Linked DNA regions of Homo sapiens: region 2 is linked to region 1. Evidence: fine-mapped expression QTL. A gene starts in region 1. The other region holds a variant in brackets. All regions are shown on one strand. Distances are between the middles of the regions. Region 1 holds the start of CADM4 (cell adhesion molecule 4). Region 2 has its middle 15 kb from the start of IRGC.

Region 1 (5,356 bases):
GTTATTGAAAGTTTAGAAACCAGGCAAGAGCTAGGTCTCCGAGTCTCACCAGGGACAGGCAACAATTGAAAAGCTGTGTGAAATAAAGGTTGTCTCTCTCTTGCAGAATCTTAATCACCCCAAATATGAATCTGGCCCCAGGGGTATCTGCCAGCCATCTTGCTACAGGAGGGGAGCCATGCATCCTTAGGACAGAGATTGACAGACCTCGCCAAAGCCAGCCATAGAAGGACTTTTTGTTATGTGTGAACCAGTTCTCTTTCTCTCAAACCAGTTGGGTTGCACTTGCTGTCACTTGCACTAAATCCCTAATGGACAGGGTACCCTGAAGTAGGATGGGGACAGGACCACTATTCTATTTATTATTATTATTATTATTATTATTATTATTATTATTATTATTTAGACTGAGTCTCATTCTGTCACCCAGGCTGGAGTGCAGTGGCATGATCTTAGCTCACTGCAACCTCTGCCTCCCAAGTTCAGGGGATTCTCATGCCTCAGCCTTCCGACCAGCTGGGATTACAGGCACGTGCCACCACGCCTTGCTAATTTTTTTTTTTTTTTTTGGTAAAGATGGTGTTTCACCATGTTGGCCGGTTGGTCAGGCTGGTCTCAAACTCCTGACCTCAAGTGATCGGCCCACCTTGGCCTCCCAAAGTGCTGGGATTACAGGTGTGAGCCAACGCGCCCGTCAGGACCACTACTCTTGTGATGTCTTCACATGGAATGGTGGGACTTAAGGATGACAGGTGAGAACCAAACCAACATCTCCCAAGGTTCCCCTTCAGCTGGAGCAGGAGACATCTGTCAGAGCACAGAGTGAGCGGGCCTATTGGCTCCTGCGGGAAAAGGCAACTACTAGTTACCCCTTGGACCAGTATTCCAAAGGCAGATCAAACATTCCTCTCCCATCTAGCAAAAGTCACAGAATGTGAGCCCTGGAAAGAGGATTAGAGACTATCTCTTCCCAAGTCTACAGAAGCTGGGAAGCTGAGGACTGAAAAAGAAGGAAGTTGCTCAGGGCTATGGATCTGGGGACACAGGGGCAGTTAGAAGCTTGGGCTCTCAGGACAGAGAGGATTGCTGGAGCCATCGTCCTGGGGACACAGGAGTTGATAGGAGCTTGGACCCTGAGGACAGAGAGGATGCTGGGAGCCATGGTCCTGCTTCACAGGGGTTGATGGGAGCTTGGACCTGAAGGACAGAGAGGATGCTGGGAGCCGTGGTCCTGAGGACACAGGAGTTGATGGGAGCTTGGACCCTGAGGACAGAGAAGACACTGGGAGCCATGGTCCTGGGACACAAGGGTTGATGGTAGCTATGGTTTTGAGGTCAGAAAGGATACTGGGAGCTGGGTACTGAGGACAGAAAGGGTGTGTGAAGCTGAAGTCCCTTGTGGGACTGGATGTAAAATTTTTTAGTCGGAATAAAAAGTAAGGATTTTCAGCCAGGCATGGTGGCTCACGCCTGTAATCCAGCACTTTGGGAGGCCAGACAGATGGATCACCTGAGGTAAGGAGTTCAAGACCAGCCTGGCCAGCATGGCAAAACTCCGTCTCTACTAAAAATATAAAAATTAGCTAGGCATGGTGGCGGGCGCCTGTAATCTCAGCTACTCGGGAGGCTGAGGCAGGAGAATCACTGGAACCTGGGAGGCAGAGGTTGCAGTGAGTCGAGATCGTGCCACTGCACTCCAGCCTGGGCAACAGAGCGAGACTCCGTCTGGGCGGGGAGGGGGGAGGGGGGAAGGAAAGATGTTCATAATTGGCACTTCTGGACCTCAGTTTGCCTGACAAATGGGCATGAGAGAGGTCGAGGCCTTCTTTCCATGGTTTCTCACTCTTTCTGGGTCCCATAGGTAATGATCCCGCATCAGGTCTACAGGGTGTCACAGAAGTGGGCTCAGGGAAACCCACTCCCAGGAGGGAGAAGGGACCTAAGTCTGGAGGGGTGAGTCACCCTCAAAGATGGGGAGAGAGGAAGGGCAGAGGCAAATACATGCAGAGAGAGGGAGAGAGGCTGGGGCAGGGAGACAGCAGGGAGGAGAGGGGACGCCAGGGCTTGGAAGGTGTTCACAGGAGCCTCTCCCTCCTGGGACCCAGGATTCAGGCTTCCTTCCAGTTAGTTCACTTTCAGGGGGCCCCTCCCGGAGAATGACGCGGAAACACGGGGTTTTCAGGTCAGGACAGGAGAGAGGGAGGGAGGGAACTGACCCCACCCCACTCCTGAGCCCCAGCCTCGCCCTGCCCTGGGAGATCCTTGACCTGCCTCGACCTCCGGACCCTCCGGACCTCCAGCTGCAGCCTCCCCTGTCCCGGTGGCTCAGCTCACAGCCTCTCGCTAGACTCCAGACACCCACCTGCCCGCAGCACGCCTCTCACACTCACCTTTCCCACGTCGCACTCCCTCCCTTACGCTCCCCCGTCACGCTGGCCACGCTCTCCCTTCGCACACACCGCACCCCACGACGCCCGCGCCCCCACCCTCGCACAGCCTCCAGCAACACCCTGCCACCCTCCCCTCCGCGCAGCGCAAGCACCCTGCATGCCAGCAACTCCGCACCCTCGCGCGCAGCACCTGGGCCCGCACGCAGCACCCTCACCCAACACCCTCCATTTCCCGCGCTCACCGAGATCCCCCACCTGCTCCCACGCCGCTGTCGCCCTCCCGCGCACCCCTTCCCGCCCTCCTCACCCCTCTCCTCTCCAGCTTTCGCACCCCGCACCGTTCCCCCACCGTGCCGTCCCCCCGATTGTCTCCGGGCCTCTCCTCCGTCTCCCCCTCCCCTCCCCGGCCCCGCCCCGGCCTCGGCGCCCCGCCCCCGGGCGGGCAGGGGGCGGGGCGCGGGGGGCGGGGCGGGCGGCGCGGGCGGTGCAGGTGCCGGGCCGGGAGCGAGCGGCGGCGGCGGCGGCGGCGGCACCATGGGCCGGGCCCGGCGCTTCCAGTGGCCGCTGCTGCTGCTGTGGGCGGCCGCGGCGGGGCCAGGTAGGGTCGGGGGCCGGGGTCGGCCGGCCGGGCTGGGGCGGGGGGCGCGCTGTGGTGACAGCCCGGCAGCCTCGGGGCCGCAGAGGCCGAACAATGCGCGCGGGGCCGGGCCGGGCCCCCTCCCCGGGACAAAGCGCAGCGCGGGCCGGGAGCCGGGAGCGACGAGCGGGGGAGGGGGCGCGGGGCCCGGCCGCCGTGCCGCAGCCCCCCCACCCGCGCAGGCTGGATCCCGGCGGGGACAAAGGGCCCGAGACCCCCCTACACACACAAGTCCGCCCTCCCCAGGCCGGTCCCGCTGTCCTTCTGTCCAGTCTCTGCGTCCCTCTGTCCGCCCGTCTCTGAACCCCCCCGTCTGGCTCCTCGTCCCCCTACCCTTGTCCTCTATCCCTCAGTCTCGAAGTCCTGTCCCTCCTTCTGTCTGTCTCCCTCTCTTCTTGCCTCGGTGTTCCTCATCTATTCTGTCTTTGTCCCCTACCTCTGTCCCCTGGTCTCTGTCCCCTTTTCCTGGGTCACTCTGTCCCCTCCATCATCCTGTCTATTCTCTTTCCCCCGGATTTCTGCCCTCCCTCTCTGCCCCTATTCTTGGTCCCTGTCTCTGTCTCGCTGTCACCCTTGTTTTTCTGTCCCTTTTTCTCTGTCCCCTATCTGCCCCATCCCCTTGTCTCTGTCCCCTGTCTTTCTGTCACTCGTTTCTCTAACCCTTTCTGTCACCTGTCTCTTTCCCCCTTCTCTGTCCCACTATCTCCATCCCTGTCTTTCTGCTGTGCCTCCTCTCTCTACGCTTACAGCCTCCATCCCGGGATCTCCCATTCCCATCCTACCTTCCTCCCTCTCTCTATCCCTCTGTGCCCCTGAAGAGGAATTCAGTCAGGCAGGGCATTCTAAAGAGCCCTGGAGGGGAACATCTGTGTGCATGTGTGTGGGGAAGTGAGAATGGGGGACCTTGGCGTGTAGGCACACACGTGGATTCAGCGAATGCCTCTCCAAACCCTGCTCACCCATTCACACACCCAGGCTTGACTCACAGAGAAGCCCCTGTCCAGGACATCCAGGGAGCCATCCACATACCCTCATCACACACTGTGAGAAGCTGGAGACCCCCGAGGTTGGGTGACCCTGAGAATGGGGACAAGGTCAGGAAATGTCACCCACACACACTCTCACACTGTGTAAGTCTTGAACCTGCCACGGGTCACCCCTCCCTGGTGGATAAGGCCACTTTTGGAAGGAACAGAGGATTGGAAGGTGGCTAGGCAGAAGCAGGAGGGCTGGGTGTTCGGCAGAGATTGGTGAGAGGAGTTATAACCAGGTGGCATGGGGCTGGCGGCCTGGGCTTAAATCTTGGCTCTTGCCATTTGCCATCGCAGCCAATGGTAAACACCTTCCTCTCTCCAGGCTTCTGTTTCTCTTTCTGTAAAGTGAGGATGTTGAACTCAGTGACATGAAAGGGAACGCCAGCTCAGACCGTGAAGGGGTTTCTGGCAAGTTGAGTGCGGTTACATGTTCCCCACTCCAGGGTTTGAGGCAGAGCCATCCTCACCTCGGCCAGGATGAGGGGCAAAGCTGTCCTCTCACTGTCTTTCTTTCTTCTCTAGTCTTCTGTGACTGCTTTAGAACTTGCATCATTACCTCCTTTCTTTACAACAGACATGCCACAATTTCCCAGATGAGAACTTTGGTACCTCAGTGACATTTCCATCAATTTTAATTTATCTTTATTTTTTAGGCTAAACACCAGGCTCATAGAATCCTGGAACTAATGAATCCAGTAAATAAAGAACCTGATGGTACTTTAGAATGCTGACATCTACAGGATTCTAGAATCCAGAAGGCTTTAGAATCTTGACACCTTTAAAGTTCTAGAACCGTGATGGTGTTAGCATGCTAGCATCTTGACGTCTTAAAAATCGTGAAATCTTGATGTCTTGGAGTTCCTGGATCTTGACATCTATGACATTTAGAATCCTGACAGCTTAGAATCATCAGACTTTGAATTCTCAGGATCAGAATATAGCTTAAGGTGACCACCCGCCCCGTGCAAAAGCCTTTCTCTGGTGCTTCTGGGAGTTAGGTCTACAGCCCTGTCCCTCGTTTGATTTCCAAGTCACTGCTTCCTGGCACCCTAACCCTCTCTGTAAACTTTCTCTAAAGTAAATAGTATGTGGCTTTTACCAGTAGAAACTGAGCTTGGTGTCATGGGAAGAGCTCTCAGCTGGGAGCTAAGGAACTTGGGTCCAAGCCTTACCCAGGACCCTTTAGTATAATTTTGCATCAGTCCTTGTCCCTCTCTGGGCCTTACTTTCCCGTTCTGTAAAGCATGGGGTAGGAGGCTGTAGCATGTGGTCTTGGAGGGCCCTTCCTGCTCTCC
Region 2 (5,367 bases), 61 kb before region 1:
GCTGGAGTGCAGTGGCGCGATCGCAGCTCACGGCAGCCTCAACCTCCCAGGCTCAAGTGATCCTCCCACCTCAGCCTCCTGAGTAGCTGGGAACACTGGTGTGTGCCCCCACACCCAGGCTAATTTTTGATTTTTTTGTAGAGACAGGTGAACTAGTCACTTTTGATATGAGCTTTCTATGAAGGATTTAGAAGAATGTCACAGATCCATGGGTGAAGGGAGATCTCCCCTGAAGGATTAGGATATTCTAGGCCTTCTGCAAACAGGCAGGGATGGGTGTGGGTTATGCTAAGCTCTCAGTATGCTTTATTTTATTCCATCCTCCCTCCCAGAAAGGATGTGTCCGTCCTACAAGAGTCGAAAGCATGGGCTCTGATGCACAGGGAAGTATTTATGGGTGAAATATGATATCTGGGATTTGCTTTAAATGTCTCAGCACAAAAAGGAAAGAAGGGAAGAGGGAGGGAATATAGGAAGGCAAGAAGGGAGAAAGGAAGAAAGAAGTATGAAGGAGAGGAGGGAGAAAGAGAGAGAGGAGGAAAGAAGGGAGAAAGGAAGGAGGGAGAGAGAAAGAGCAAAGGAGGGAGGGTAAAAGCAAAGGAAAGGCCAGGAGCAGTGGCTCACGTTGTAATCCCAGCACTTTGGGAGGCCAAGGCGGGCGGGTCACTTGAGGTCAGGAATTCGAGACAGGCCTAGCCAACAAGGTGAAACCCCGTCTCTACTAAAAATACAAAAATCAGCTGGGCACGGTAATGCGTGCCTGTAATCCCAGCTACTCTGGAGGCTGAGGCAGGAGAATCGCTGGAACCTGGGTGGCGGAGGTTGCAGGGAGCCGAGATCACGCCACCGCACTCCAGCATGGGCAACAGAGCAAGAGACTCCATCTCAAAAAAAAAAAAGCAAAAGAGAGAGGTGAGGAGGGAGGAAGAGGGGAAGGTGTAGGAAAGGAGGAGGCAGGGAAGGGGGAAGGAAGAGAGAGATAATTTGGCAAAATGTGCATAATTTTGGACACTGAGAGATTGATACTGAAGGGTCATTTAATGACTGCTTCCAGCTGCAAACATCTCCTGGGCGCCTGCTATGGGCTCTGGGCTCAGTCACATTTTGGTCCCATCATAGATTGGGGTATCAGTCTGTCATAGATATTATACTATTTTCTCTACTTTTGTGTATATTTGGACATTTTCTTAATGTTTAAGGGGGGGAAATTTTATCTTCTAGAGTCAGACAGATGTGTGTTCAGTCCCAATGTTCTTCATACTAGCAGTCTCTTAGCCTCCTTCAGCCTCAGTTTCTTCCTCTATACAATGTGGATAAATAATAGCACAGTCCTCATGATTAACAACCTGAAGACATGACTATTTCAATTGGTTGAAAGCTTAGGGTGGGCCAAGCCTTGTGCTTAATGTACCTTACAATAACACCTTACAATATGGGAACACAAGGCTCAGAGATGTTATGAAACTTGTCCAAGACTACACTGCAGATAAATTGTGAATCCACACCACAAACCCAGGTCTGTTTGAGTCTAAAGATCTTTTATTTTTTTTCAATTTTTTTATTTTAATTTTTTTTTTTTTCCTGAGACGGAGTCTCACTTTGTCGCCCAGGCTGGAGTGCAGTGGCGCGATCTTGGCTCACTGCAAGCTCCACCTCCCAGGTTCACGCCATTCTCCTGCCTCAGCCTCCCGAGTAGCTGGGACTACAGGTGCCCACCACCACGCCTGGCTAATATTTTTTTTTTTTTGTATTTTTAGTAGAGACGGGGTTTCACCATGTTAGCCAGGATGGTCTTGATCTCCTGACCAGCTGGGACTACAGCTATACCTGTAGTCCACCACCATGCTAGGCTAACTTTTCAATGTTTTGTAGAGATGGGATCTTGCTATATTGCCCAGGCTGGTCTTGAACTCCTGGCCTCAAGCAATCCTCCTACCTCAGCCTCCCAAAATCACACTGTGATTACAGGCATGAACCACTGCGTCTGACCCACATTAACTGTTTCTTACTGCATCTGCCTTGGAGCCTTTGCCTTTCCAGTTCCCTCTGCCTGGAATGTCCTCCTCCCCCACCTCAGACAACTGCATGGCCTTCTCCCTTGCCCCACGTAGGTCTTTACTTCCTCAATTAGGTCTTTACTTACGTCACCTTACTGAGGCTCTTACTCACCATGTATAAGATCATATCTCTTTGGCAGCGTTCCCCATTCTCCTTCCCCGCACTGTTTCCTTCCTAGTACTCACTGATATGTGATGTACGATATGTGATATTTATTTATTATGTGTCTCCTCCACTAAAATACCACTTCCATAAGAGCACAGAATTTTGTCTGTATCGCCAGTGTCTCATTTACAAAAGAATACATAGCTTGTGACTGATAAAGATTTGTTAGATGAATGTTAAATGAATTGTTTCTATTCTTTCGGTTGGGCTTTCTGTTACTTTCAGTTTTTGTTTTTGAGACGGAGTCTCGCTTTGTTGCCCAGGCTGGAGTGCAGTGACGCAATCTCAGCTCACTGCAAC[C/T]TCCGCCTCCCAGGTTCAAGTGATTCTCCTGCCTCAGCTTCCTGAGTGACTGGGAACACAGGCACTCGCCACCATGCCCGGCTAAGTTTTTGTATTTTTAGTAGAGACGGGTTTCGTCCTATTGGCCAGGCTGGTCTCAAACTCCTGACCTCAAGTAATCTGCCGGCCTCGGCCTCCCAAAGTGCTGGGATTACAGGCGGGAGCCACTGCGCCTGGCGGGGGCGGTCTCTTTCAAGCCCCCTAGAGCCACGCCGCCTAATCTGTCTGGTGCATGGCCTGGAGTGATTTCTTAGGTAGCCCTCCCTCCCACTGTCATAGCCCCCAGGCACTGGGATTACAGGCGTGAACCACTGCGCTCAGCCACTTTCAGCAGAAAGCAAATGGTTCCTGGCATTCTGCCTGTGGTGAGCAACCCAGTTTCACTTCTCCGCTCAATCCTCTGAGTTCAGTTCCAGATGCAGCATTTGGTCTTATGCCCACCCTGGCCAGACACTGTTGTCGGTTTGTCCCCTCCAGGTTCACCAGTTGAAGTAACTTAACCTCCCCTGGCCTCAGAGGAGAGAGGACCACATCAGGGCCCTCTTTGAGGCTAAAACTTCAGAAAAAGGAAACTCAAACCACTTGGCATTGTGAGATGTGATTCATTCAGATCTGGTTACAGCTGGGAGATTGGGCCCACACAGAAGAGGGGCTCCTCACCCCACCCATGCCCCCTGCCCCGTCTTGGCCCATGGTGGGGGTGGAGGAGGCTGCTCTGAAAACCTTGGAAGAGGGTGTATCGGATCCTCAAGCCCCGCCTTGGCTGCCCAGGATTTTGCTAGACCCCAAACAGGGAGAACAAAAGAGAAGTTGCTTGTCAATGTGTGGGAGAAGAGACACATCCCTGGTGTCTGGGAGCAGCCGGATATTGGGTATCCCCTCGTTTGAAGAAGGAGGCTTAGTAACTTGAGGAAGAAGAACAGCCCTCTTCTGAGGGAGGAGGTTTGGCCTTGGGGAAGGTGCTAATCTGAGGGGGGAGGTATAGCGCCCCGCCCCAACTTAGTTGAGCAGACGCCTGATCTCAGCAGCAGGTGAGTGGCCTTAGTCTGAGCGGGGAAGACACACCCTAGGCTGATGGAGGCATGGCCTTTGGGACCCTGGTGTGAGGAAAGAGGACTTAGCCTTGAGTAAGCCCTGAGTCTGGAGCAGAAGGTCTGGCTTTGGGAAACGCTAGTCTGAGGGAGGAAGCTCATCCCTGCTTCCTGAGTTTCTCACCAGAGGCTTCCAGGTCTCCGCATTGCCCCAGCAGAGGGGAGCCAGGGCACCATCTAGCGACGTGCCGAACAAGCAGGTGGAGGGGGCCTCCCGGGCGGCGGGGTGGTCCAGGCGGGATTCCTTAGCACAGCGTCGCGGTTGCCAGGACTACCACCAGAACCGGGAGGGAGAGGCGGAGGCCGGGCGCGGCGCCCGAGCGGCAGTGGGACTCTAGGACGGCGCGGCGGTGGGGGCTGCAGTGGCTCGACAGCCAGTGTCTTGGGAGCACAGAGAGCCCGTGGGTCCAGTCCAGGGCGCTGCACAGGTCTCGGGAGCCGCAGCCGCGTACGTTCACGTTCCGGCCGCCTGCCGAGACGGAGACAGGGTGCAAGGAGGGGACGTGGGGGCGCGCGCAGGCAGAAGGCCACCCCCGCGCGCACCCAAGCGCACACGCGCGCGCCTTGCACACGCACAGGGCCCGCGAGCCCCTCGAGTCCATGTCCTTCGTGAAAGCTCATCAGGAATGTTCTTTTCTTTGAGCTGGGAGCTGGTCACGGCTGTCTCTCTCTCGTTGTCACTCTTTCTACCTTACACGTATGTTACAGGTGTGTTTTCACTCGTGTGCAATGTTTGTTTCCTTTTTTAAAAACTTTTTTTAAAAAAATGAGACAGAGTCTCGCTCTGTCACCCAGGCTGGAGTGCAGTGGCACAATCACAGCTCACTGCAGCCTCGACCTCCTGGGCTCTGGTGATCCTCCCACCCCAGCCTCCTGAGTAGCTGCGACTGCAGGCCGTAGCACCAGGCCCAGCTAATTATTTTGAAAATTTTTTGTAGAGATAGGGTCTGCCTCTGTTGCCCAGGCTGGTCTCAAACTTCCAGGCTCAAGCGATCCTGGCCTCCTAGAGAGCTGGGATTACAGGTGTGAGCTACCACACCTGGCCCAGAAAATTTTAAATTACACACGTGTCTTACATTACATTTCTTTCAGAAAGCACTGATATAGTTTAGTGGATTATCTTATTCAATTCTCACAACAGTCTTAGGACTTAGCGACTGTTGTTATTCCCGTTTTGTTGTTGTTTTTTCTTTTTTTTTTTTTGAGACGAGGTTATGAAACTTGTCCAAGACTACACTGCAGATAAATTGTGAATCCACACCACAAACCCAGGTCTGTTTGAGTCCAAAGATCTTTTATTTTTTTCAGTTTTTTAATTTTATTTATTTTTTTTTTCTGAGACGGGATCTCGCTTTGTCGCCCAGGCTGGAGTGCAGTGGCGCCATCTCGGCTCACTGCAAGCTCCGCCTCCCGGGTTCACGCCATTCTCCTTCCTCAGCCTCCTGAGTAGCTGGGGCTACAGGCACCTGCCACCACGCCCGGCCAATTTTTTGTATTTTTAGTAGAGATGGGGTTTCACCATGTTAGCCAGGATGGTCTCGATCTCCTGACCTCGTGATCCGCCCGCCTTGGCCTCCCAAAGTGCTGGGATTACAGGTGTGAGCCACCACGTCCGGCCCTCCCCTGTTTTTTAAAGAACTTGTTGCATACCAAGTTATCCCCTTTTACAGATGGAGAAATTGAGGCACAGAGAGGCAAAGTCACCTGGTCAAGG

The links. PIP is the estimated chance that this variant, and not a neighbour inherited with it, causes the effect.
Region 2: its variant is fine-mapped to the expression of CADM4 in whole blood (TOPMed, PIP above 0.99).

The regions. Positions count from the first base shown.
Region 1 is chr19:43,637,359-43,642,714 of GRCh38, reverse strand. It overlaps CADM4 (cell adhesion molecule 4), which reads left to right and starts at 2,865. Exons shown (of 9, transcript NM_145296.2): 1 at 2,865-2,988. The coding sequence starts at 2,925. RefSeq lists a silencer at 2,842-2,981.
Region 2 is chr19:43,698,303-43,703,669 of GRCh38, reverse strand. It overlaps the pseudogene LOC105372412. Among named protein-coding and RNA genes, the nearest start is that of IRGC, 15 kb to the left of the region's middle. RefSeq lists enhancers at 2,108-2,167, 2,258-2,307, 2,318-2,367, 2,726-3,226. The variant C/T (reference allele first, on the strand shown) is at 2,524.